Homo sapiens: one gene and its partners. The protein of the gene in region 2 purifies or fractionates together with the protein of the main gene of each other region. This does not show direct contact. Each region holds a gene or a part of one and is shown on either strand. Other genes may lie near its edges. The genes, in order: GSTA1, SSX2, CUL7, SESTD1, KIF3A, SMARCA5 and AMD1.

Region 1 (2,946 bases), on a different chromosome or scaffold from region 2:
GGTTGTAAGTGGAGAAGAGACTAGAGCAAAGTGAAGCTGCAGGTAGGAAGCCTGTGTGTTTGTCTGCTCCCTCAACCACCTCTGCCAACTGTGGGGAAGCTCCCTCTAAGAGGAGGAGAGTGCAAATTGCAGAAGCCCAGGTGTCCTGGGAGAGATTAGCACTATGGGACCAGTATGGGGGTGGAGCTAGAAAGCACTCCTAATCTAAGCATTCTGGCACAGTGACACACCAGGGAAAAATGATTTTGCATATAGTTATTTGTATTTCACATATACCATCTGTATCGTGGCAGCCAGGCCTGAGTGGCACTGAAGGAACTGAGAGAAGGCTTATGCCTGGGACCCCACAGAGCCTTAAGGAGCAGAGTGAGGATGAGCCAGGAGCACACACACTGTAAGGGACAATAGGGTGGCCTGAGAGCAGAGGGTGGGTCTGTTTGCTCTTCAGTATTTCCTCACCTCCTAGAAAACTGAGGAATCCACAGCAGACAGAATCATTGTTTTGCAAATGCATAAGAAAGAACGCTTTTATCAGAAATAAAATGACTGTCCAGGAAAAGAAGAAAATGTCTTTATGCCATTATCCAGGATGGTAACTCTTCTCCTGTGCATACCTGAAAATGTCAGAAGTGCATTTCTACATTGACATTTTAATAGATTGTATGACAAATTGTATGTTACGGGACAATTCTTGGAAAAGTCAAACAAACCACATAATCTATAGTTTCCTTTTTTACTGAATTTTTAATTCCAGGAAAATGGTTGGCTAGGAGAAGATTGGAAATCTGAATTCACATCAGATCCTAATGAAAACAAATCAATTTTAACTAAGTCAGCGAATAGGAGTTGTATTATTTAATTAGCATATAATTTGAAAGAGTTCATTAGCTTCACAACAGGCACAATCAACACTTAGGTAAAGTACTTTATTGTTGCAAAACTTTAGAACATTGGTATTGCAAGTTCTTGGCCTCCATGACTGCGTTATTAAAACCTGAAAATCTTCCTTGCTTCTTCTAAAGATTTCTCATCCATGGGAGGCTTCCTTGGGCTGCCAGGCTGTAGAAACTTCTTCACTGTGGGCAGGTTGCTGATTCTGGTTTTCAGGGCCTGTAATTCATAAAGCACAGCCTCAGAGTGAAGCCAAGGGCTGACACCACCATTAACATGACCCAGGGAATCTGAGCCCCTCCTGCAAAGACCAAGTGAGTCTGCTCCATCAGCACAAGCATGGAGGCAGAAACAGACACCCAGTGAGAAATGAAGATAAGGGGAAGGACATGTAGCTCACTTTATTTTCCCCAAAGATGTCTTGAAGTTTTAATCAGTTCAGTCATCTCTATCTTTCTCCTTACACACTAATCCTATAGATTAGTGACTCTTGTATAAGACAAGAAAAAATAATGTGCCTGTGAGATATCAACACAGATGAGTCTCTAAGCAGAAGTGAAAACATGGGGAAATTATTTGGGAAGGGAATAGTTATAGAAAATATTAAAGACAAACCATGGGACCACCTTTTCTCAGTGAGAGATACAGTGTGGGGGGCCAGTGTTCTGGAGAGCTGTGCAGAGAGGAACACAATGTCAGACAGCAGGAGCCGGAGCCCAGGGAGGAAACCAGATGGAAAGGGCTCTGCTCAGACCGGCTCATTGTGGGCACATATGGGATAAAGGACATCACAGAGAACTCAGGAACAGAAACCACATTGAAATAGAGGGATGGGGAGAGATGCTGGGCCCTGGGTTCTTTCCATAATAAAGGGCAAAATACTCTTTGTGGGGTAGCATGCAGCACAGATTTCCTTTCCATAACAAAAGTGTTTTCATTCCTCAAAATTGGAGCCTGGAAGCTCATTTTGGAGACCTTGGGGCACTGAAGGCCTGGAGAAGACTGGGGCAAAACTTGGTCAGTCGCAGGGCCCAGATACAAGATCCCAAGATGGGAGATGTGGGGCTGCCTCTCTGGGCTGTGAAATGGGTCACCTTCAGCAGAGGGAAGCTGGAGATAAGACTGGAGTCAAGCTCCTCGACGTAGTAGAGAAGTTCCACCAGATGAATGTCAGCCCGGCTCAGCTTGTTGCCAACAAGGTAGTCTTGTCCATGGCTCTTTAAGACCTGGAGAATGGGAGGAATCAGATCAGGAACACATGCACACCCAGGCTAGGACCCCTGCTTCTTTCGGAGCCTCTCCACCCTGACTTTCCCCACCTCTGTTGCCTTACTGCATGGGTGCAGAAATCCAGAGCTTTCTCCACATTATCTGAATGAATGAGAGAGTAAGAACTGTAACTCTACTCACTCCTCAGTTGTAGCTCAGGCTCCCATTTTCTCTTCTCATTCTACATCACTGTGGCATCTACACCACCCACGCAGCTTGCTTCTTCCACATGGGCCAGGGGCTTAGCACCTGCCTCCATGTGTTCTGTCTGCCCCAGGCCCTACAGCGTGGAGCCCTCACATTCAGGATGTGGCTCTACATTCTGCTCTCTCCCTCTCCAATCTCCCTTGGGCAGTGACTCCACCTTCATGACAACACTCTTCCCCAGGAGGAGACTATTTCAGAGTCCTCATTTCTCTTTGTCTGCTCTCCTCATTCCCTGCTCTATCTCCCTGGGATCTGTAGGAAACCTGGGTGAACCTGAATTCATCTTTCTTACAGCATTGACTCTCACTCCCAACTGGCACTATGTTATAATCTGCAAGCTGAAGCGTTTACGGGTGAACTGCACTGATGTCTGCAACTTACTCTAAAATCCATTTTAAAAAATCTTCCTCTGCATCCCACAATCACTCTCCTTTTAAAAAATACCCATCCCTGAAACGCTACAGTATTCTCTGGTTGGGCAATTGGTCTCCTATCTTCCTGCATATGGTGCCAGAATATTTTCTGATGGATCGCTTTCATCATGCCCCTGTTCAGTCAAAGTCCATGGGGTTCCATAGA
Region 2 (3,500 bases):
AACATTGAATAAGCTAATGCATGTGAAGACCCTTTGTAAGCTCAAAAGCACTATAGATATGTCACTGATACTATTTATCTGTGATCTTCACATTATAAAGATCATGCCCAAGAAGCCAGCAGAGGAAGGAAATGATTCGGAGGAAGTGCCAGAAGCATCTGGCCCACAAAATGATGGGAAAGAGCTGTGCCCCCCGGGAAAACCAACTACCTCTGAGAAGATTCACGAGAGATCTGGTAAGAGGAAGCAATTCAGGAACAATCCCTCTGGCTTCCCTGGCGATGTTCAGGTATATGGACTGGGTGTGTGGCATGGATCCCAGATAACCCTGGGTCCAGACTGGGCTGAGGAGCTCGCCCAGCTCCAGATGAGATGTTAGACATGACTTCCAGAGATAGACTTGATTTGTCACCCATAGAAAAAACCATGTGACTTGGGGCAAGTCTTTCAGATTTTCTCAGCTCCAGATTCCTAGTCCGTAAGATGGAAATAAGGAATCATAGTTCATAAATTGTTTGGAGACATTAAATTTAATCTAGAAGGCCTGATGACATGAAAGGTGCTCAAGCAATTCTATCTGTGATTACCTGGGATCATTACCTGATTAAGACTCAGCTCAATGCCATGCCTGTTACCCAATACAGGTGTACTTCAGAGATACTGCAGGTTCAGTTCCAGACCACTGCAATAAAGTGAGTCACACACGTTGTTTTTTGGTTTGGCAGCGCATAAAAACATTATGTTTATACTATAGTGTAGTCTACTAAGTGTGCGATAGCGTTGTGTCTAAAAATGTATATACCTTAATTTAAAAATAATTCTTTGTTAAAAATGCTAACAATCTTCTGAGCCTTCAGTGAGTCACACTCTTTTTGCTGGTGGAGGGTCTTGCCTCGGTGTTGATGGCTGCTGGCTGATCAAGGTGGTGGTTGCTGAAGGGTGGAGTGGCTGTGGCAGTTTCTTAAAAGAACACAACAGTGAAATTTGCCACATCGATTAGCTCTCCGTTTCATGAAGGATTTCTCTGTAGTATGTGATGCTATTGGATAGCATTTTACCCACAGTAGAACTTCTTTCAAAGTTGAAATCAATCCTCTCTAGCTATGAAAGTCCTAGAAGGCATCTCCTTCCAATAGAAGGCTATTTTATCTACATTGAAAATCTGTTGTTTCATGTAGCCACCTTCAACAGTGATCTTAGCTAGATCTTCTGGATAACTTGCTGCAGCTTCTCCATCAGGGTTTGCTGCTTCACCTTGCACTTTTATGTTATGGAAACGGCTTCATTCCTTAAACCTCATGAACCAACCTCTGCTAGCTTCACATGTTTCTCCTGCAGCTTCTTCACCTCTCTCAGCATTCATGGACTTGAAGAGAGTTCTGGTCTTGCTCTGAATTAGACTTTGGCTTAAGGGAATGTTGTGACTGGTTTCGTCTTCTATCCTGACCACTCAGACTTCCTCTATTTGAGCAGTAAGGCAGTTTTGCTTTCTTATTCGTGTGTTCACTGGAGTATTAGTATTATTATTTCCTTCAAGAACTTTTCCTTTGCATTCACAGCTTGGCTGTTTGGCGCAATAGGCCTAGCTTTCAGCCTGTCTTGGCTTTCAGCATGCTTCCTCACTAAGCTTAGCCATTTCTAGCTTGTGATTTAGAGTGAGAGACATGCGACTCTTCCTTTCATTTGAACACTTAGCGGCCATTGTAAGGTTGTTAATAATCCTCATTTCAGTATTGCTGTGTCTCAGGAAATAGGGAGGCCCAAGAAAAGGAAGAGAGACGCGGAACAGCTCATCGGTGGAGCAGTCAGAACACACACAACATTGGTCGATTCAGTTTGTCAACTTCTATGGGTGCAGTTCATGGTACCCCCAAAACAATTACACACAACAGGGTGATTATAGTCAATAATAACTTAATTGTACATTAAAAAAAAAACTAAAAGTGTAAATGGATTGTTTGTAACACAAGGATAAATGCTTGAGGATGGATACCCTATTTTCCATGATGTGATTATTACCCATTGCATGCCTGTATCAAAGCATCTCATGTACCCCATAAGAATATACACCTGCTGCGTACCCACAAAATAAAGAACAAAAATTATTTTAAAACACTAAAAAACAATAAAATCAATTGCAGTAATAATATCAAAGCTCACCGATCACAGATCACTATAGCAGATATAATAATAATGGAAAAGTGTAAAATTGGTGAGAATTAAAAAAAAAAATTGCAGCATCTGCGAAGCAGTATGAACATGAGGTGCAACAAAACAAGGTACGCCTGTGTGGCCTTAACAAATACGTGCTGGATGAAAGGAGGTATGGGGGAATGTTCCCGTAAGTGAAGAGGTTGGGAATCTAAGCCTGAGAAGGGAAGGAGCCAGAAGCTAAAACTTTAATTGGCATTTGGCCTATGTTGGTGTGGATCTAAGGTCTCAGCCTCTCTAAGCCAGAGAATGTGAAAAACTGGATGAAGAAGGCCCATGGGCACTTGGGAGGAAGCAGGCATCTCCTTTTTTTGAGTAAACAGAGCCTAACACTCTCCAACCTACCCAACCCTCACTTTCCAACTATTCTCCATCACAGGACCCAAAAGGGGGGAACATGCCTGGACCCACAGACTGCGTGAGAGAAAACAGCTGGTGATTTATGAAGAGATCAGCGACCCTGAGGAAGATGACGAGTAACTCCGTAAGAGAACCTTCCACTCATCCCCCACATCCCTGCAGACGTGCTATTCTGTTATGATACTGGTATCCCATCTGTCACTTGCTCCCCAAATCATTCCCTTCTTACAATTTTCTACTGTACAGCATTGAGGCTGAACGATGAGAGATTTCCCATGCTCTTTCTACTCCCTGCCCTGTATATATCCGGGGATCCTCCCTACCCAGGATGCTGTGGGGTCCCAAACCCCAAGTAAGCCCTGATATGCGGGCCACACCTTTCTCTAGCCTAGGAATTGATAACCCAGGCGAGGAAGTCACTGTGGCATGAACAGATGGTTCACTTCGAGGAACCGTGGAAGGCGTGTGCAGGTCCTGAGATAGGGCAGAATCGGAGTGTGCAGGGTCTGCAGGTCAGGAGGAGTTGAGATTGCGTTGCCACGTGGTGGGAACTCACTGCCACTTATTTCCTTCTCTCTTCTTGCCTCAGCCTCAGGGATACGACACATGCCCATGATGAGAAGCAGAACGTGGTGACCTTTCACGAACATGGGCATGGCTGCGGACCCCTCGTCATCAGGTGCATAGCAAGTGAAAGCAAGTGTTCACAACAGTGAAAAGTTGAGCGTCATTTTTCTTAGTGTGCCAAGAGTTCGATGTTAGCGTTTACGTTGTATTTTCTTACACTGTGTCATTCTGTTAGATACTAACATTTTCATTGATGAGCAAGACATACTTAATGCATATTTTGGTTTGTGTATCCATGCACCTACCTTAGAAAACAAGTATTGTCGGTTACCTCTGCATGGAACAGCATTACCCTCCTCTCT
Region 3 (3,500 bases), on a different chromosome or scaffold from region 2:
GCTGATTATGTTGGCAAAAACGGCAGAGAGCATCCCTGGGTTCTTTCATCCAGGCCCTACTGTCCCAAAAACCAGTTGTAGGGCTGTGTTTTGAGATGTTCAGGCACAGACACCTGGATGGCTGGGAAGGGGCTGACAGGGACTGGGTTTGTGTGTGTATTATACCCAATGAGCCTGCCTTAGAAAGTAAATTCTAGGTAACAGCCAAAAATATAGCCACACTGCAAATACCTACTGTCACCATGACCCTAGTTCTCTGAGCCCTTCTGAAGCCTTCTGTGCCCAGGACTTCTCTGTAGCTCTTGCAGGGGACTCTGGTATGTGATGGGCGCTCTGCCTCCTTCATCCCCCTTTCTCCCACAGGCCCAGCCAAAAATGGAGCTATTGAAGCTCTTAATGTTTTATGTAATAATATCTCCATATCCTTTTGTGTAAAAAAGAGAGTGGCAAGATCACACATTTGGGTTTGCTTATATTTGCATAAGGGAACACGGGAAAGATACATAAATTAATACAAGTAGTTACCAGTAAGGGGTGTGTGGGGGACCCTGGGGGAACAGAGATTTGGGTGAGAGCAAGAATTCTCAGTGTATACCTTGTTAGAGCGTTTTGATTTGTGAACCATGTGAATGTATTACCTATTTAAAAAAAATAAAATTCAATTTTAAAAGCAAAACTCAAACCAAGAGCTCAAAGGCTCTATCACGCCCTCCAGAGCCTTGCCCAGCAGGTGTGCCTTGCCAGTGGCTGCCTTTATCCTCTCCCCCAGCCTCTCCCCAGAGCAGGGCAGGGGTACCTCTCGATCAGTGTTTGGGGACCGCAGGCAGGCCATGCAGGCATCCACGGCCTCGTGCCAGGGGAGCAGCAGTGCCTCGGGGAAGTCCACCAGCTGCTTCAGGATTCTGGGGGCAGAGAAATGTGTAGCCAGCCTCATGGACCCCCTTTGCCCTCAGAGATCCCACCTGTCACCATGCTCTCACCTCAGCACAGTCAGGTGCAGGGTCCTGTTAGTCTCCGGAGTGTCCAGGCTCTGCATCAGTGCCAGGAAGGGCTGCGGCTGCCGCTGCAGCTGCAGCAGGAGTGGCTTGACCTTGTTCTCCTGGGTCCCCTCTGAGCTGAGGGCTTGCTCTAGATCCAGGAGGATTTTCCCAGCTGGACCATAACCCTCCACCAGACGCTGCAGGGGAGTGTTGGGACTCTGAGATGGGGGTTCTTTTGCTACAGGAAGGGGACAGTCACAGGAGTTGGCCATTGTTAGTAATGTGAAGGCTCAGAAATAGATTCATAACTCTCAATCTTTTTCTCTAATTTCTCCTAAAAAATGTTTTAAATTTTTTAATCCCCCTAAAAGTTAGGTTTGGGGATCTAATCTCTGAATGTCATTGTAAGACAGCTTCATGACAAATTTTATATTCTTTTTTTTTTTTTTTCTTTGAGACGGAGTCTCGCTCTGTCACCCAGGCTGGAGTGCAGTGGCATGATCTCGGCTCACTGCAACCTCCGCCTCCTGGGTTCACGCCATTCTCCTGCCTCAGCCTCCAGTAGCTGGGACTACAGGTGCCCACCACCACGCCCGGCTAATTTTTTTTTTTTTGTAGTTTTAGTAGAGACGGGGTTTCACCATGTTAGGCAGGATGATCTCGATCTCCTGACCTCATGATCCACCTGCCTTGGCCTTCCAAAGTGCTGGGATTACAGGCGTGAGCCACCATGCCCGGCCTTTATATTCTTAAAATAGCAAAGTAGCTTCATCTGAAAACAGGAGAGCACTTCCCTTTATTTCAAAGCATGGAATATGTTTCTGTACAAGAGAAAAAGCTAAATGTGGGGGCTTTTTTAAGTCTTCAAAATTCTCTTGCAATTTTCTAACTTTACATCCTCCTTCATTCTTTGAGGGAACACAATGCCTGCTTCTCCGTTTGTTGCTTCTCTCTAAGTTGCAGCTTCTAAGGTGGCATCACTTCCAGAAAGGATTGCATAAAAATCAGCACAGACATCTCTCCTGTGCTACTGCCCTGAAGGTGTGTCAGCTCAGCTGCTGTGTCTGGCACCCACCTTCCACTTTGGCTGCATCTTCTGAGTCCTTAGCCTGGGCCTGCGCGTCTAGCAGGAGGACATCTTCTTGGGCTTCTAGAAGGGATGGGTAGGCTTGGTTCCCTGCTAGGGCTTCAGGCCCATACTTCTTGTAGACATGGCAGTTGATCAGGTCCCTGAGGGCACTGTCATTGAGTCGCTGTGGCAGAGTCAGCAGCAAGTCCTGGGCCAATTCTATGGGCACGGCCAGTTCAGCTAGGATCTCATCATCCAGAATCTGCCATCAAGGAGAAGCTCTCACTGCAGACAGCCCTGCCGACCCAGAGGCCCCAGGGAGCACTTGGTAGGGGTGGGGGTCTCTCTGCACACATACCCTCCATCCTGATCCTCTCACAGCTGGCAGCTGGCTCCTCCCAAACAGCTCACCCTCCCACCTCTGAAAATTCCAGACCCCTCCTCTGCAGCCCCTTCCACTCTCTGACCTCCACTTTTCATCCTGAGCCTTCCAAATGCTCTATACAGTCCAGCCCTTGCAATAGAGCCCTCCAACCTCTGAGTGTCTCCAGGCTGGCTCTACCTCCCCATCTAGGTTCTCCTGGAGGATCTGGAGAACCTCCTGATGGTCAGGTCCATCCAGCTTCTTGATGAAGAAGAGGAGTTCCCACCACTCAGCCAGGGTCAGGTGTTCACACTCCTCAGTGTCCTCATCCTCAGGCAGCACATAAGGCACAGCATAGAGTTCTGTCATGGGCCTCCAGCGCCAGGCAGGCAGGGCTGTGAAAATGGGCCAAGGGGCACAAGGATGTCACTAGCAACTCAGCAGGACCACCATTCCTCTGCTCAGAGCTGACCCTTGCTTCCTCCCTGAGCTCACCTCTACCCAGGACTCTACTGGCCACTGCCCCTTGGTACTCATCAGCCTCAACCATGTCCTCAATGTCTTCCTCAAAGCCCAAGATCTCCAGCATGTGCCAGTGCACCCAATAGGTGCGGCCTGTTGACTCCCAAAATACCTGGAGCATAGGGAAAGAAAGAGGGAAGGGGAAGGGAGGACTCACAAATGACTGGCTGTGGCCCAGTACTGAGGACTATAGCCCTCAGGGTGACCACCTGGCCAGGTTTTAGAAAAACCTCCACATAACAAAACAGCAGCATATGGAGAATACACACACACACACACACACACACACACACACACACACACACACACACACACACACAGGATGCCTTCTCCTTTGGGGGATGGGCCTGTCTCTCCTCTCACCCTGTCTTTCATGGCTTATGCCCCCACACTTCCTTCTGGCCTCCACCACTCCATCTCCCTGACCCTGACCTTTGGAGGAGTCTGGCTATATCAGTTTCTTCCCAGGTGTGAGTCTTCTTGACTTCACAGCCTCCTAAACCCAGATTTTCCCAGCTCTCAGAATGGCCCCCCTCTCAACTACTGACTCTTTTCACCATTCCAA
Region 4 (3,500 bases), on a different chromosome or scaffold from region 2:
GAGACAGACCGGAGAATGGCTGTAAGTGAACAAAATACACCTAAGGTTCTAGGCAGTCTACATTCTACTGGGTTTTTTTTTTTTTCTTTTCTTTTTTTTTTTTTTGAGACAGTGTCTAGCTCTCTCGCCAGCCTGGAGTGCAGTGGTGCTATCTCAGCTCACTGCAACCTCTGCCTCCCAGGTTCAAGCGATTCTCCTGCCTCAGCCTCCAGAGTAGCTGGGATTACAGGCATGCGCCACCACACCCAGCTAATTTTTGTATTTTTAGTAGAGACGGGGCTTCACCCTGTTGGCCAGGATAGTCTCCATCTCCTGACCTCGTGATCTGCCCATCTTGACCTCCCAAAGTGCTGGGATTACAGGCATGAGCCACTGTGCCCGGCCGTACATACCCGTTTTTTAGGAAGAAACATTTGGATGACTTTTTTTAAATACATGCAAATGTATTAGCCAGATTTTTTTGCTCTCCACATCCCAGAGAGACTATTTCTTTATGGCAACCTCAATCGGTAATATCAATGTCTCTAATTTCAGGTGTTAATTTCTTGAGACATACTAGTCCTCACAATGTATTTACATCCCTGGTCAGGTTGCTGGAGCCTATATTTTACAAATTCAAACCAGGAAATAATTAGCTCCACAGTGGTGATTCCTAAACCTTAACAGGCATAAGAGTCATCAGAGATGCTTGTTGAAATATATATTCCAGGGCCAACTCCAGATACTGATTTAGTAAGTCAGGAGTGAAGCTTAGACATTTTTAATAAACACCCCAAGTGGTCTAATGCTGGTAGCTCTGAAAAGTGCTATTCTAGGACTCTAATCCTTCACTGCTTTTCTCAGAATCGTTGCTATTACGTCTTCAAAGAGTTAAGCCTATTTATTTAGAGCATTTAATGATATGTAAGTACTATGAATAAGGTATTGAAATCCTTTTATATTTTAGAGCATGACAGTGATAATTTTCTGAGGTAATATTTTCTACTTTAAAATAGTCTCTGTTAACCATTATAAACTATGTAGTTTAAAAATATTCTATGCTTGTTATTGAGTTAAATCCAAACAATAACTGATAAACAAGGTAAGACAGATATTATCATCACCATTGGATATAGGAGGATTTCTCATCCTCAGCAGACTCTTGAGACTTTGGGCCAGATAAATGTCTGTCGTAAGGGCTGTCCTGCACATGGTAGGGTATTTTGCAGCATCACTGGCTTCTACTTACTGCATGCAGTGGCATCCCCATTCCTCAGTTGTGATAACCCAAAATGTTTCCAGACACTGCCACATGTTCCCTGAGTGACAAAATCACCCTCTGTTACCTACTTAATGTAATGTCAGTAAATCTACAGTGATTAATGTTTTATACCTTCAATCAATGAATGTTAATTGAGCACATACTATGTGTCATGTGTTGTTCTAGGCTTTTGCCATATAATACTGTCTTACTATATGGAATTTACATTCAAGTTGGGGAGCGGAAAGCAATATAGGTATAGATTTTAGGAAAGGCCTCTCTGAGGAGATGACATTTAATCAGAAACCTTGAAATGATGTCGAGAAGTAATCCAAACAAAGGGCAATTCAGATAGAGGACACAGCAGTAGAAACACCCCAGCACAGGAAGATGATTGAGGAACAGCAAGAATGTTGGTGTGGCTAGAGTACAGGGAGCAAAGGAGAGTCACAGAAAATAAAGTTTTAGAGGAAGTCAGGAGCCAAAACATGTAATGTCTTTTAGCCCATGAAAAGAAACTTGAAATTTATTTTAAATGTTATGTGAAGTTATTTGAAACTTTTGGACAGATAATTAATTTATGTTTTAAGCAAATCACCGGCTATTGTGTGGAAAATAGGGAACAGAGACTAGCAATGAAAATGGAAGGCGGGGGGCTGATAGATGGAGGCATTAGAAGTAATGAGAATTGATAGAAGTTGATGAGGTTGAGCCAGCAAGACTTGCTGATGAAAGAATCAGGCTTTTGGCCTTAGCAGCTACTAAGGCAGGGAGGACTGCGAGAGGAACAGGTTGGGAGGATAGTGAATCAGTGTCTTTGGTGGCAGGTTAGATTTTAGATATCTAGTAGTCATCCAGATGAAGGTGGCTAGTGGGCAGTTGGGTATCAGTATCTGGGGTTCATGGGAGGGGTCAGTGTTGATGATTAATTTGGTAATTCTTAGCCTATAGATGTATTTAGAGCCTATATTAACTTGGTAGTTCTTAGCCTATAGATATATTTAAAGCCTATATTAATTTGGTAATTCTTAGCCTATAGATCTATTTAAAGGCATGGGACTAGGTGAAGTCATCCAAACCCAGTGAGAAGAAAAGAGAGCCTCTGGAAAACTGAGCCTTGGGTCAACCTAAACTTTAAGTGCAAAAAGAGGGAGGAGAGCCAGCAAAGAAGGCTAAAAGGAGCTGTTGTGTCTCAGAAAACAAGAGAAAAGGCCATTTGAAGGAGGAGGAAGTGCTTACTTGTGCCAAATGCAGCTGTTTGTTGAGAGGTTCAATAAAATAAAGACTGAGAATTGACCATTGGATTTGTGGCAAGATGGAATTTTTTGGTGAATTTGACAATTGGTTTCAGAAGGGTGGGAAAACAAAATCCTGATTGGAATGGATTAAAAAAAGAATGAAAAATGAGAAAAGAGTAAATACAGAGAACTCCTTTAAGAAAAAAATTTTTTTTAACTGAGGTTTAATTTCAGCGTAGTAAAATGCACAAATCTTAAATGTGTATTTTATTGTTTAATAAATTACAGCTTATTTATATGCTGGTGGAAATAATCCAGTTGAGACAGAAGAACTGATGGGAGACAGAGAAGATAACTGTGAGAGCAAAGCTTTGTGTAGGCAACAGAGATAGGCTGTAATGCACAAGTGGAGTGGTTGGCCTTAGAAGAAGAGACAGGCGGCTGATTATTACAGCTCTGAGGGCAGAGCATAGGGCTGTAGAAGAACGGAGGGTTGGGGATTTGTTGGTGGGAAGATGAAAGAGTTTTCCGATTACTTCCCAGTGAATTAAGATCTTTGGCTGAGAATGAAGAAGTGAAAAGGGAATTGGAGACTGATAGTGAAAAAAACATAAATGATCATGAGAATGAGAAAGTGAATTTACTAGAGAAACATAAAAGGATTGCCAAAGACTCATTTGAGATTATTTAGTCATAACTTTAAAAAGAGATCTGTCAATCCTTTTGTAGTTTATAAGCATGATGATGGGTGCTCACACTCATCTGAGATGTGTCTCCCTCTAAGCCTTGTAACAACATCAGCACGTTACCCTTCTGATGTGAGGGAAAAGAGAGAGAGCGCTATCCACCTAGTTGTTTTTAGTCTACCCATGTTCGGCTACTCTGGTACAGGCACACATTAGGCAGAGAAAACAGATCTCAGGTTTCAACAGGTCATTCTGATGGAAGGAAAGAAAGCCAGGCAGGGGCATGGGTTATATGCTGGGAGGTGGTTATAGCCTTTGATCAAGGATGGAAGTGAG
Region 5 (3,500 bases), on a different chromosome or scaffold from region 2:
AGCACAAAGAACCTGCTCATTAATATCAGGGTGGAAGTAACCACAAAGATAGTTGAGAAAAGCAGCAGACCACTACTACAGGCATTAGGTAAAAGATTTTTATTCTTATTTAACCATGCTGCATGTATACATACAATACCAATATATACAACTTGAACAAATACAATTTATACATAAAATACAATGAAAGCATGGCTTTTGAAACTGATGCAACAAACTGTAATTTGTAATTTTGGCCAGCATACAGTATTATAGTAATGCTACTGAAGTTATTCATTAAATTAGTCAGACTACAGTATAAGTTCAAAGGCACTAGAAACATCTATGTTTTCTTCTAGTATTTTTAAGAACAAAAAATAATTTAAAATAAAACAAATGTATACATTAGGAAATTGGGCAGACATTGGTGTACTTAAATGTAAACGCTACCCATTCCTTAATTCACAGCCCTGTAGGAAAGAAGACTTTCCTTAAGAGTTAAGGGGAAGGATATTAAAAACAGACTAAAAGGAAACAAACAAAACAAAAAACAACCAAAAACCATAATCATAGTTTTAAAAACATGTTACAGAGGAAGTAGCACCACCCCCTCCCCCAATAAAACCTTAAATTTTTGCTGTAAAAAGAAAAAAAAAACAACTCCCTTTCTCCAGAAAGGAAATGAAATGGCTTGTCAAATGGATTCTATTCATGGGGCAAACATGGAGATGCGACCCTTCCCTTGATTACTCATCTCATGCTTTATAAGAATCTAAACACAAATAGGAAACACGATGATAATTTTAACATCCTATTAGTATATGTAATTGTAAGGATTATTAAAGAAGATACTATAAACCAATAATTCTACCAATGCTCCTTTTAATAAATAAATATCACTTTTTAAATTAAAGGGAAAAGAGAATACCCATTCAATAACCTATTTATATATATGTGCCACTCATTTTAAATCTGCATATTTATTTCAAAAAATGAGCAAGTGTGTTCATCTATATCGTCTCACGAAATTAACACTGACCTTACAACATATTTCATTTGTGGACAAAGACACAGTAAATGTGAGGAAACTACAGAATTGCTATGACTGGAGCTAAATGAATAGCTCTGAAGTCAGTGTCCCATATTTGCATATAGATATTCAGACCAGGCTTGAGGCCAGGCGTGGTGGCTCACACCTGTAATCCCAGCACTTTGGGAGGCTGAGGCGGGCGGATCACAAAGTCAGGTGAGACCAGCCTGGCCAACATGGTGAAACCCGGTCTCTACTAAAAAAAAAATACAAAAATTAGCTGGGTGTGGTGGCGCAAACCTGTAATCCCAGCTACTCAAGAGGCTGAGGCAGGAGAATCCCTTGAACCCAGGAGGCAGAGGTTGCAGTGAGCCGAGATCGCGCCACTGCACTCCAGCCTGGGCGACAGAGTAAGACTCCGTCTCAAAAAAAAAAAAAAGATATTCAGGCCAGGCTTATGTATCAAATTTTGGTATTTCTGAGATGGATATTTAATGTCCATCTGGTATAATCAGTTTTAACATAATGCTTTTTTTAAAAAACTGCTATAGTAGGCGGGGTGTGGTGGCTCAGGCCTATAATCATGCCTGTAATCCCAGCACTTCGGGAGCCTGAGGCGGGTGGATCACTTAAGCTCTAGGAGTTCAAGACAGGCCCGGGCAACATGGCAAAACCCCATCTCTACAAAAAAATACAAAAATTAGCCGAGCATGATGGCATACAGCTGTAGTTCCAGCAACTCAGGAGGCTGAAGAGACAGAGGTTACAGTGAGCCGAGATTGTCCCACTGCACTCCAGCCTAGGTAATAGAGCCAGACTCCGTCTCCAAACAAAAAACAAACACCCCTGCTATAGTAGCCTGCTTTTAGAACTTCTCAATTGACTTTTTATAGATCGGCTTTTTATTTTGACTTTTTATAGATTTATTTTTATTATCATGGTAGGGTGGGATAGAAAAAATATCTAACATACTGGCTTAAATTTCCATGTTTTAAAGCTTGATTTAAAAGTTACTCCTTTCCTATTAACTGAATTGTTAAAGGTTAGAAACATGAACTTTTAAAAAGAAGCGTTTTTTTTAAACTGGTAAAATTAAGATTTCTTTAGAGTAATTACTAACAGAGTTAAATGTGTATCATCAAAAACATTTTATAATTACCAAAATATTCTGATCACACAAAGCTTTTACAAGACACATATTTACCTCAACTCTTCACAGTATCTAAACAATGCCCCACAGAGTTAAGTAATAAATTTCTAGCTATCTTACATACCACAAACAAATGCAGCCAGTGAAATGCAATTCTAATCACCTAGAAAATGTTCACCACACACAGGACATTCAGTATTCCAATTACAGAATGGACTTTAAATTTATGGGTACATTTTTATCGCCACCTCAAGAGTACTCCACCTTCACTCACCCCTACTCTATACACAGCTTTGTCATTTAAACTAGGATTTAACAAAACTTATTAAAATAATATTAATTTAATAAATACTAACTTATAAAGTCTCAAAATATTTTCAACCAATGTGTTTCAGGGCTGATTACATAATTTTGAAAACCACAAAACATATATTAAGTGGTTTAGGAGTAGCATAACTTTATTTTTATTTTATTTTTATTTTTTGAGGTGGAGTGTCACCCTGTCACCCAGGCTGGAGTGCAGTGATGCCATCTCAGCTCACTGCAACCTCCGCCTCCCAGGTTCAAGTGATTCTCCTGCCTCAGCCTCCCAAGTAGCTGGGATTACAGGTGTGCGCCACCACACCCAGCTAATTATTGTATTTGTACTGGAGACAGGGTTTCACCATGTTAGCCAGGCTGGTCTCGAACTCCTGACATCAAGTGATCCACGTGCCTCGGCCTCCCAAAGTGCTGGGATTACAGGCGTGAGCCACCATGCCCGGCCAGGAGTAGCATAACTTTAAAAAAATACAATAAAAGTTTCATAAGCAGCTAACAACAGAAAAAAATAATTATCTCTATTACAACTTACTTTACTATGAAATCAACATAGTTTTTATTTGTAGAGGAATATGGTCTAACTGGATTACCCAATAGAAGAAATTCAGAAAATAATATTTTATTTTTAAAATAGAAAAACAAAATAAAAAAGTGTTTTAAAGGCAAAGTATTTAAAAGATATTTTTCTTGCTTAGCTGTATTTTCTGGAAAATGGAGACTCTTCTTAACTGGGAGACATAAAGTAATTCCCACCAAAATTTAGAACTCAAAGAAAAGCATCCATAACACTTCAGAGTGAATTTTTAAAAATATACACGCAGGCAAAGATAACTGAGCAGTATTTAGCTTCTTAATTTTCCGCAACAGTAGATCCTTTATATTTACGTACAATTCAATGTTTCAAGAGAACATGAAACCAGAACTTAAGGTGTATTTGATTTGAACTCAAACTGGCAAAAAAAAGTTAGGAAAGGTTCAGATGAAACATTTTCAACTTGTTAAAAAACATGTATACTCGCA
Region 6 (3,500 bases), on a different chromosome or scaffold from region 2:
GGAACTCATTTTTGACAAAGCTACCAAGAACATACACTGGAGAAAGGACAGTCTCTTCAATAAATGGTAATGGGAAAATTGGATATCCATACACAGAAGAATGAAACTTGACCTGTATCCCTAACTATATAAAAAAATCAAATCAAAATGTATTAAAGACTTTAAGTCCTCAAACTGTGAAACTACAAGAAAACATTGGGAAAACTCTCCAGAACACTGGACTGGGCAAAGATTTCTTGAATAATACCCCACAGGCAACCAAAGCAAAAATGGACAAATGGGATCACATTAAGTTAAAAAGCTTCTGCACAGCAGAGGAAACAGCAAAGTGAAGAGACATCCCACAGAATGGAAGAAAATATTTGCAAACTACCCATTTGTCAAAGGATTAATAAATAACCAGAATATGTAAGAGCTCAAACAACTCTACTGAAAAAAATCCTAACAGTCCGATTTAAAAATAGGCAAAAGATCTGAACAGATGATTCTCAAAGGAAGACATACAAATGGCAAACAAGCATATTAAAAGCTGTTCAGTATCACTGATCATCAGAGAAATGCAATCAAAACTACAATGAGATAACATCTCATCCCAGATAAAATGGCTTTTATCCAAAAGTCAGGCAATAACAAATCCTGACAAGAATGTGGAGAAAAGGAAACCCTCATACACTTTTGGTGGGAACGCAAATTAGTACAATCACTGTGGAAGCAGTTTGAAGGTTCCTCAAAAAACTACAGATAAGAGTTACCCTACTCCTAGGTTTACACCCAAAAGAAAGTCAGTATATCAAAGAGATATGTGCACTCCCATGTTTACTGCAGCACTATTCACAGTAGCCATGATTTGGAAGCAACCTAAGTGTCCATCAACAGATAAATGGATAAAGAAAACATGGTATGTATACACAATAGAATACTATTCAACCATAAGCAATGAGACCCTGTAATTTGCAGCAACATGGATGGAACTGGAGTTTATTAAGTGAAATAAGCCAGACACAGAAAGACAAACTTGGCATGTTCTCACTTATTTGTGGGAGCTAAAAACTACAATTAAACTCATGGAGACAGAGAGAAGGATGGATACCAGAGGCTGAGAAAGGCAGTGGGGGTGGGGGAAAGTGGGGCTGGCTAATGGATACAAATAAATACAAAGAGAGACTAAGACCCAGTATTTGATAGCCCAACACAGTGACTACCGCAATAAATAATTTAATTATACATTTTAAAATAACTAAGAGTTAAACTGTTTGTAACAGGGATAAATGCTGGAGGTGATAAATACCCCATTTACCCTGATGTCCTTATTACTTATTGCATGCCTGTATCAAAGTATCTCATGTAACCTATAAATACATACTTACTCATAACAACTAAAAATTAAAAATTATACCACTACCTAAATTTGAAAGTGGAAGAATCTCAAATTATGAGCTTGGGTTCTCCCTTAAGGAAAAAAAAAAAAAAAAAAAAGTAAAGGCAATGGAGGGGTGCACAACAGGGACTAACACATCAATGACAGCCAAGCAGTGTTAAATACTTAGAAAGGGGAAATTTACATAATCCACATATTTACATATTCATGAATACTTACTGAAGGCTTTGGTCCTCGTTTCTTTTTCTCTGCCTTCTCCTTTTCTTCTAGTTCCATGTTTTCTCTTTCAATCAAAGTAATTAAGGTATTACATCTCCTCTGGAGCTCCTAAATTATAAACAAACATGGTACACGCACTTTCCATCCACAAGTTTCATGATTTCAATTTTAAAACAAGGTATGTTTTAATAGGATAATATATAAAACCACTAATACACCCCTGATTTAAAAAAAAAACAACTGATTTTCATATACAATTCATGCTATGAAGATTAAAGGCAAGATATTTGTAAATAATGTTTTTACTCCAATCTTTAAAGCCAAACTACTGTGTATTCTTCAAAAATTCTTCCTTCACTTAGGAATTAAAGCAATAAAAATGAACATATGCAATACTGCTACTTAGTGTGTATGTCTGAGAACTACTGTGCTACTTATATCCAAAACTTAAAAAGATTAATAGTGCACATATGTGAGGGTCAAAAACAACAAGAACTTTAACAGGTGTGTATAATCTTTCCCTTCAAAGTATCACTAGAATTATGGTAGTCAATCAATCACATGGCACCTTTCCCAATTTTGGAAAACCAGCCATGGAAGTCTACGATGAGTTCTACCTCATCTCTCTCTGGCAAACTGGACATACAGCCTCCAGAAAAGATTTAAAGTATAACATAGAAGTAGCAGTTAACCCTGAAAGAAACAGAAGTCCATCTGCACGGACGGCTGCTGGGTAGCAGCCCCCTTTCTTATAGAGCAAAATTATTTTTTTCTTATAGTAAGTGATACTACTACACACACAACTACAGTAAAATAATTTTAAAATACTACTGTATAGAATACACCACACAAGACTTAGAAATAGTATATAGAGATAGAAGAATACATTATCATTTTTTGTGCATCTTAACATGGAACATGTTAAGAAGTAACACAGTTTTAAATTACGGTACTGTACTAGTTAAATTAACATGGCACTGTCTTGTTACAATCACTATAAAATTATTCTTTATTAACTCTATAAATTGTTCCCACTTAAGAAGAAATAAGCTTTCAGCAACTGGATCTTTTCTCTAATTATATATTTATACAGTGTTTTATCTTCAAAGTATCTTCATGTATTTAAGTTTAGTACATTTCCCAAACTTGGGTATCACAAACAGTGATGTCTAGTGAAAAAAAATTTTCAGTGGTCAAACATGAAAATACTGCTTACTATCCACTGTCTTACAAAGTGACATTTTACTTTAAATATACAGAGAAATCTTACTATAAACAAACACAAAGATGTTTAAACTTTGCTTATCCCAGAATATCCCAAACTTAAGACTAAAGAACTTATTAGCATTATCCTCATCTGGCAGAAAACAAGTTGAAGCTCAAAGTTCAATGGTGGTGAAATAAGGAAGAAAAGGAGCAATCCATCAAAGTTAAACTTTTCTGAATTCAAATTTTAGGTTATTAGAAATGGGGCTATTTGGTCAGAAACTGTTAGTCAGATATTGGGAATAAAAACAAAACCTAGCACTAAATCAGTGCAAAAGTAGTGTTTCACTATAATAAGCCATCTTAAAATAATCCAGACTCTGGATGATTTATATTAAATAAATCAGAATGCTGATTCTGATGTGCAGATGCTTGAATGCAAGGACCATTTTTCTTTATAGAAATATGTTCATTTGAAAAACCAAAAAGTCGTAACACTCAGAAGTTGAAACTGATACTTCCTCCCACTTAGAACTTGAAAAGCTAGTCTTATCATATAGTGATATTTAAAGACGTAAGATACTAAAGGATAGGACCAATAAACTTGTAAGCTATCCCTGGTATTAGGTTTTATGATACTAACAATATTGTAACAAAAGTCTACTTCATAGATTTTTTTAAAGTCACCTTAAAGAAT
Region 7 (3,500 bases), on a different chromosome or scaffold from region 2:
AGGCCCATCACAATATATACTATAAGCATTAAAAGTATTTATGGAATAAATTAACTCTGCAACTACAAAAAAGGTGATGAGCTTTTATATACCAATTAGACAACTGTATTTGTATAGAGAAGCTAACTTTCCCTTTGCCTGAACTTCTAATTAAGAGGTCCTTCTTTACCAATTGGGAGGAAAAGACGGCAAACACCTTGAACTGTCCGGTGAGGCTTCAAAACCTATGTCCTAGAAACATCCACGTTACACTAAATGTTTCCTTTTATACCATATTTTTAAGAATAATGTAAAAAAAAGGCTGGGCGCGGTGGCTCACGTGTATAATCCCAGCACTTTGGGAGGCCGAGGTGGATGGATCACCTGAGGTCAGGAGTTCAAGACCAGCCTGGCCAACATGGTGAAACCCCGTCTCTACTAAAAATACAAAAATTAGCCGGGCATGATGGAAGGTGCCTGTAATCCCAGCTCCTCAGGAGGCTTAGGCCGGAGAATTGCTTGAACCAAGGAGGCGGAGGTTGCAGTGAGCTGACATGGCGCCATTGCACTCCAGCCTGGGTGACTGAAACTCCGTCTCAAAAAAACAAAACAAAACAAAAAAACCCCCAGAACTACAACTGAGAGGAACTTAACTGTTTCACATTATGATTAGGACTGAAATTAGCTACCTAACACTTGTTTTACAGGACTTACCTGAGTACATAAGCTTCCTGCTTGTCAGTTTTTGTCACACTTATGATTGAACATTGCACATCCTTCAAAAGTATGTCCCACTCAGATCTATCATTTAACAAAAAAGTTACGATTAATCCACAATAGTACCCACCTACTCATAAAAATTACAAAGCTCACACTTTTTCTCATGAAGACCACATTTTTAATTAATATTGTACACCAACTTTTAGTTTCTTTCAAAATAATCTATATTGACACACCCAGATAAATGATAGGTATATTATGCTATATATGAAACAAAAATTGGTCATTATACTATGTATTTACAAATTACTTAAAGAAAAATAGGCAAAAAAATGTTCAAAGGTCCATAAACCAAGGTAAACCATTAACTAATCAATGATTACAGAAATTCAATGGGATACTTTGTCTATAAAATGTGCAGATTTTTAACCTTAAGAAACACTTAAAAAAAAAGAAGAGCATAATTTTACCAATCTAATTGGCATAGAAATTTAAAAGCCTGTCTGTCGGGACACAGTGAGTGATGTTACTCTTATAGCACTCACAAAAAACTGGAATGACTGCCAATTACAAGCATACCTAGAAGATTTTGGGAATACTACGCAGCTCTCCAAATGCAATGAGAAAGCCCGTTTAACAGGAAATGTGCAGTACAAGCAACCATAGCAATGAAGGTCATATGGACATGAAGAAACTAGTCTTAATTTGCCTGAGAATAGAATTAGGAAAGTGTTCATTCTTTCATTAGTGTGCCCATTATAAAAAGACAATGTAATTCCATGGAACAGCTTAACATGACAGATATTATTTTTTGAGACAGGGTCTCACTCTGTCGCCCAGGTTGAAGTGCAGTGGTGCAATCACAGCTCACTTCGGCCTTGACCTCCCAGGCTCAAGCAATTCTCTTGCCTTAGTCTCTCAGGTAGCTAGAACCACAGGCATGTGCCACCATGCCCAGCTGTTTGCCAGAAATATTTTTTAGGCCAGGCGTGGTGGTTCACGCCTGTAATCCCAGCACTTTGGGAGGCCAAGGCGGTGGATCACTTGAGGTCAGGAGTTTGAGACCAGCCTGACCAACATGGTGAAACCCTGTTTCTACTAAAAATACAAAAATTAGCCGGGCGTGGTGGCAGGTGCTTATAATCTCAGCTACTCAGGAGGCTGAGGCTGAGGCAGGAGAATCGCCTGTAATCCTAGCACTTTGGGATTGGGATGGCTTAAGCTCAGGAGTTTGAGACCAGGCTGGGCGATAGAGTAATACCCTGGTCTTTAAAAAAAGAAGAAAAATTTTTAAGCCTTATGATATCTGACAGGCCATTGCTCTACACTCATAAAAATGGCAAATCTTTTTTTTTTTTTTTTTGAGACTGAGTCTTGCTCTGTCACCCAGGCTGGAGTCCAGTGGCATGATCTCTGCTCACTGCAACCTCCACCTCCCAAGCAGCTGGGATTACAGGCACGTGCCACCACACCTGGCTAATTTTTGTATTTTTAGTGGCGACAGGGTTTCACCATGTTGGCCAGGCTGGTCTCATACTACTGACCTCAGGTGATCCGCCTGCCTCGGCCTCCCAAAGTGCTGGGATTACAGGCATGAGCCACCGTGCCCAGCCGGCAAATCTTTTGTTAACCAGATAAGACCTTTTGAGCGAAATCCAACAGCAAAATGTTTTTATTCGTTTGTATTAAAAAGCAAACACAACACCAAACATGCCTGGTAGAATTTTGTGCCTGTCTCACCATTTTGCTACAAGAAACTGTTACTGACCCATCTGCGTACCAATACCCATCCAAAAATCTTTAATGTGAAAGGCTTGCTAATGATTACAGAGCTGAGTTCCTGTATTAGACTATAACATGACTAAGCAACTTTTTTAAAAGAGCTACTAAAAAGTTTTAAGGTTCTTTAAAAAGGGTGCTAACAATTTGTTCATATATGGAAAGAATACATATGTGGGATATATACTGTGACAACCCTTGAAATTACCCCTGGCTTGTGTGGTGGCACACGCCTGTAATCCCAGCTACTCGGGAGGCTGAGACAGAAGAATCACTTGAACCCTGAAGGTGGAGGTTGCAGTGAGCTGAGATCTTGCCACTGCATACCAGCCTGGGCAACAGAGGGAGACTCCGTCTCAAAAACAAACAAACAAAACAAAAACAACAAAAACTTGGCCAGGCACAATGGCTCATGCCTGTAATCCCACCACTTTGGGCAGCCGAGGCGCATGGATCACCTGAGGTCAGGAGTTTGAGACCAGCCTGGCCAACATGGTGAAACCCCATCTCTACTAAAAACACAAAAAATTAGCTGGGCGTAGTGGTGGGCGTCTATAATCCCAGCTACTCTGGAGGCTGAGGCAGGAGACTGAATGCGGGAGATGGAGATTGCAGTGAGCCGAGATCGCACCACTGCATTCCAGCCTGGGCGACAAAAGTGAATCTCCATCTCAAAAAAATAAACAAACTACTCGTGGGAATGAAATCCTGCTTCACTTGACTAAGATAAATTTACAAAATCCTTGCAAAAATTATCTACTATTAAGACTCCCATTCCTGAATATGAAGGTAAATAAAAATATCCACTATGATTTAAGTATTAGAAACATTACAATTTCAGATTTTTAAAGAGCTTATCTAATTCAGGTCCATCAATAATGCTACCTGCTTAAGTCATCACCTACTGACTTCCCACTATAACTTATTCTTGCACATACTCCTTTTTACCCACTGGACGCACTAACAAATCCCACCCTCCCTTTCTCAGTTATATTCACCATTTCTATTAAGACTTTTAAACA

The links.
Region 1: the proteins of SSX2 (region 2) and GSTA1 purify together in Homo sapiens (affinity purification with mass spectrometry, with the first as the bait; one large-scale study listed by BioGRID). This does not show direct contact.
Region 3: the proteins of SSX2 (region 2) and CUL7 purify together in Homo sapiens (affinity purification with mass spectrometry, with the first as the bait; one large-scale study listed by BioGRID). This does not show direct contact.
Region 4: the proteins of SSX2 (region 2) and SESTD1 purify together in Homo sapiens (affinity purification with mass spectrometry, with the first as the bait; one large-scale study listed by BioGRID). This does not show direct contact.
Region 5: the proteins of SSX2 (region 2) and KIF3A purify together in Homo sapiens (affinity purification with mass spectrometry, with the first as the bait; one large-scale study listed by BioGRID). This does not show direct contact.
Region 6: the proteins of SSX2 (region 2) and SMARCA5 purify together in Homo sapiens (affinity purification with mass spectrometry, with the first as the bait; one study listed by BioGRID). This does not show direct contact.
Region 7: the proteins of SSX2 (region 2) and AMD1 purify together in Homo sapiens (affinity purification with mass spectrometry, with the first as the bait; one large-scale study listed by BioGRID). This does not show direct contact.

What each region holds. Positions count from the first base shown.
Region 1 is NC_000006.12:52,790,871-52,793,816, forward strand, and holds the end of GSTA1 (glutathione S-transferase A1), read right to left. Parts: intron 2,118-2,946; coding exon 1,986-2,117; coding exon of another isoform or gene 1,854-1,985; exon of another isoform or gene 1,178-1,853; intron 1,111-1,177; coding exon 988-1,110; 3' UTR 501-987; downstream 1-500. UniProt on the Homo sapiens protein: Glutathione S-transferase that catalyzes the nucleophilic attack of the sulfur atom of glutathione on the electrophilic groups of a wide range of exogenous and endogenous compounds.
Region 2 is NC_000023.11:52,697,179-52,700,678, reverse strand, and holds part of SSX2 (protein SSX2), read left to right. Parts: intron 1-100; coding exon 101-236; intron 237-1,747; coding exon of another isoform or gene 1,748-1,893; intron 1,894-2,590; coding exon 2,591-2,691; 3' UTR 2,692-2,695; intron 2,696-3,160; 3' UTR 3,161-3,500.
Region 3 is NC_000006.12:43,047,352-43,050,851, forward strand, and holds part of CUL7 (cullin-7), read right to left. Parts: intron 3,048-3,500; coding exon 2,909-3,047; intron 2,809-2,908; coding exon 2,612-2,808; coding exon of another isoform or gene 2,585-2,611; intron 2,312-2,584; coding exon 2,056-2,311; intron 1,219-2,055; coding exon 981-1,218; intron 903-980; coding exon 797-902; intron 639-796; exon of another isoform or gene 626-638; coding exon of another isoform or gene 596-625; intron 1-595. UniProt on the Homo sapiens protein: Core component of the 3M and Cul7-RING(FBXW8) complexes, which mediate the ubiquitination and subsequent proteasomal degradation of target proteins. Core component of the 3M complex, a complex required to regulate microtubule dynamics and genome integrity.
Region 4 is NC_000002.12:179,125,333-179,128,832, reverse strand, and holds part of SESTD1 (SEC14 domain and spectrin repeat-containing protein 1), read left to right. Parts: intron 1-3,195; exon of another isoform or gene 3,196-3,297; intron 3,298-3,500. UniProt on the Homo sapiens protein: May act as the primary docking protein directing membrane turnover and assembly of the transient receptor potential channels TRPC4 and TRPC5.
Region 5 is NC_000005.10:132,692,547-132,696,046, forward strand, and holds the end of KIF3A (kinesin-like protein KIF3A), read right to left. Parts: 3' UTR 85-3,500; downstream 1-84. UniProt on the Homo sapiens protein: Microtubule-based anterograde translocator for membranous organelles. Plus end-directed microtubule sliding activity in vitro. Plays a role in primary cilia formation. Plays a role in centriole cohesion and subdistal appendage organization and function.
Region 6 is NC_000004.12:143,548,202-143,551,701, reverse strand, and holds part of SMARCA5 (SWI/SNF-related matrix-associated actin-dependent regulator of chromatin subfamily A member 5), read right to left. Parts: intron 1,706-3,500; coding exon 1,598-1,705; intron 1-1,597. UniProt on the Homo sapiens protein: ATPase that possesses intrinsic ATP-dependent nucleosome-remodeling activity.
Region 7 is NC_000006.12:110,884,785-110,888,284, reverse strand, and holds part of AMD1 (S-adenosylmethionine decarboxylase proenzyme), read right to left. Parts: intron 781-3,500; coding exon 694-780; intron 1-693.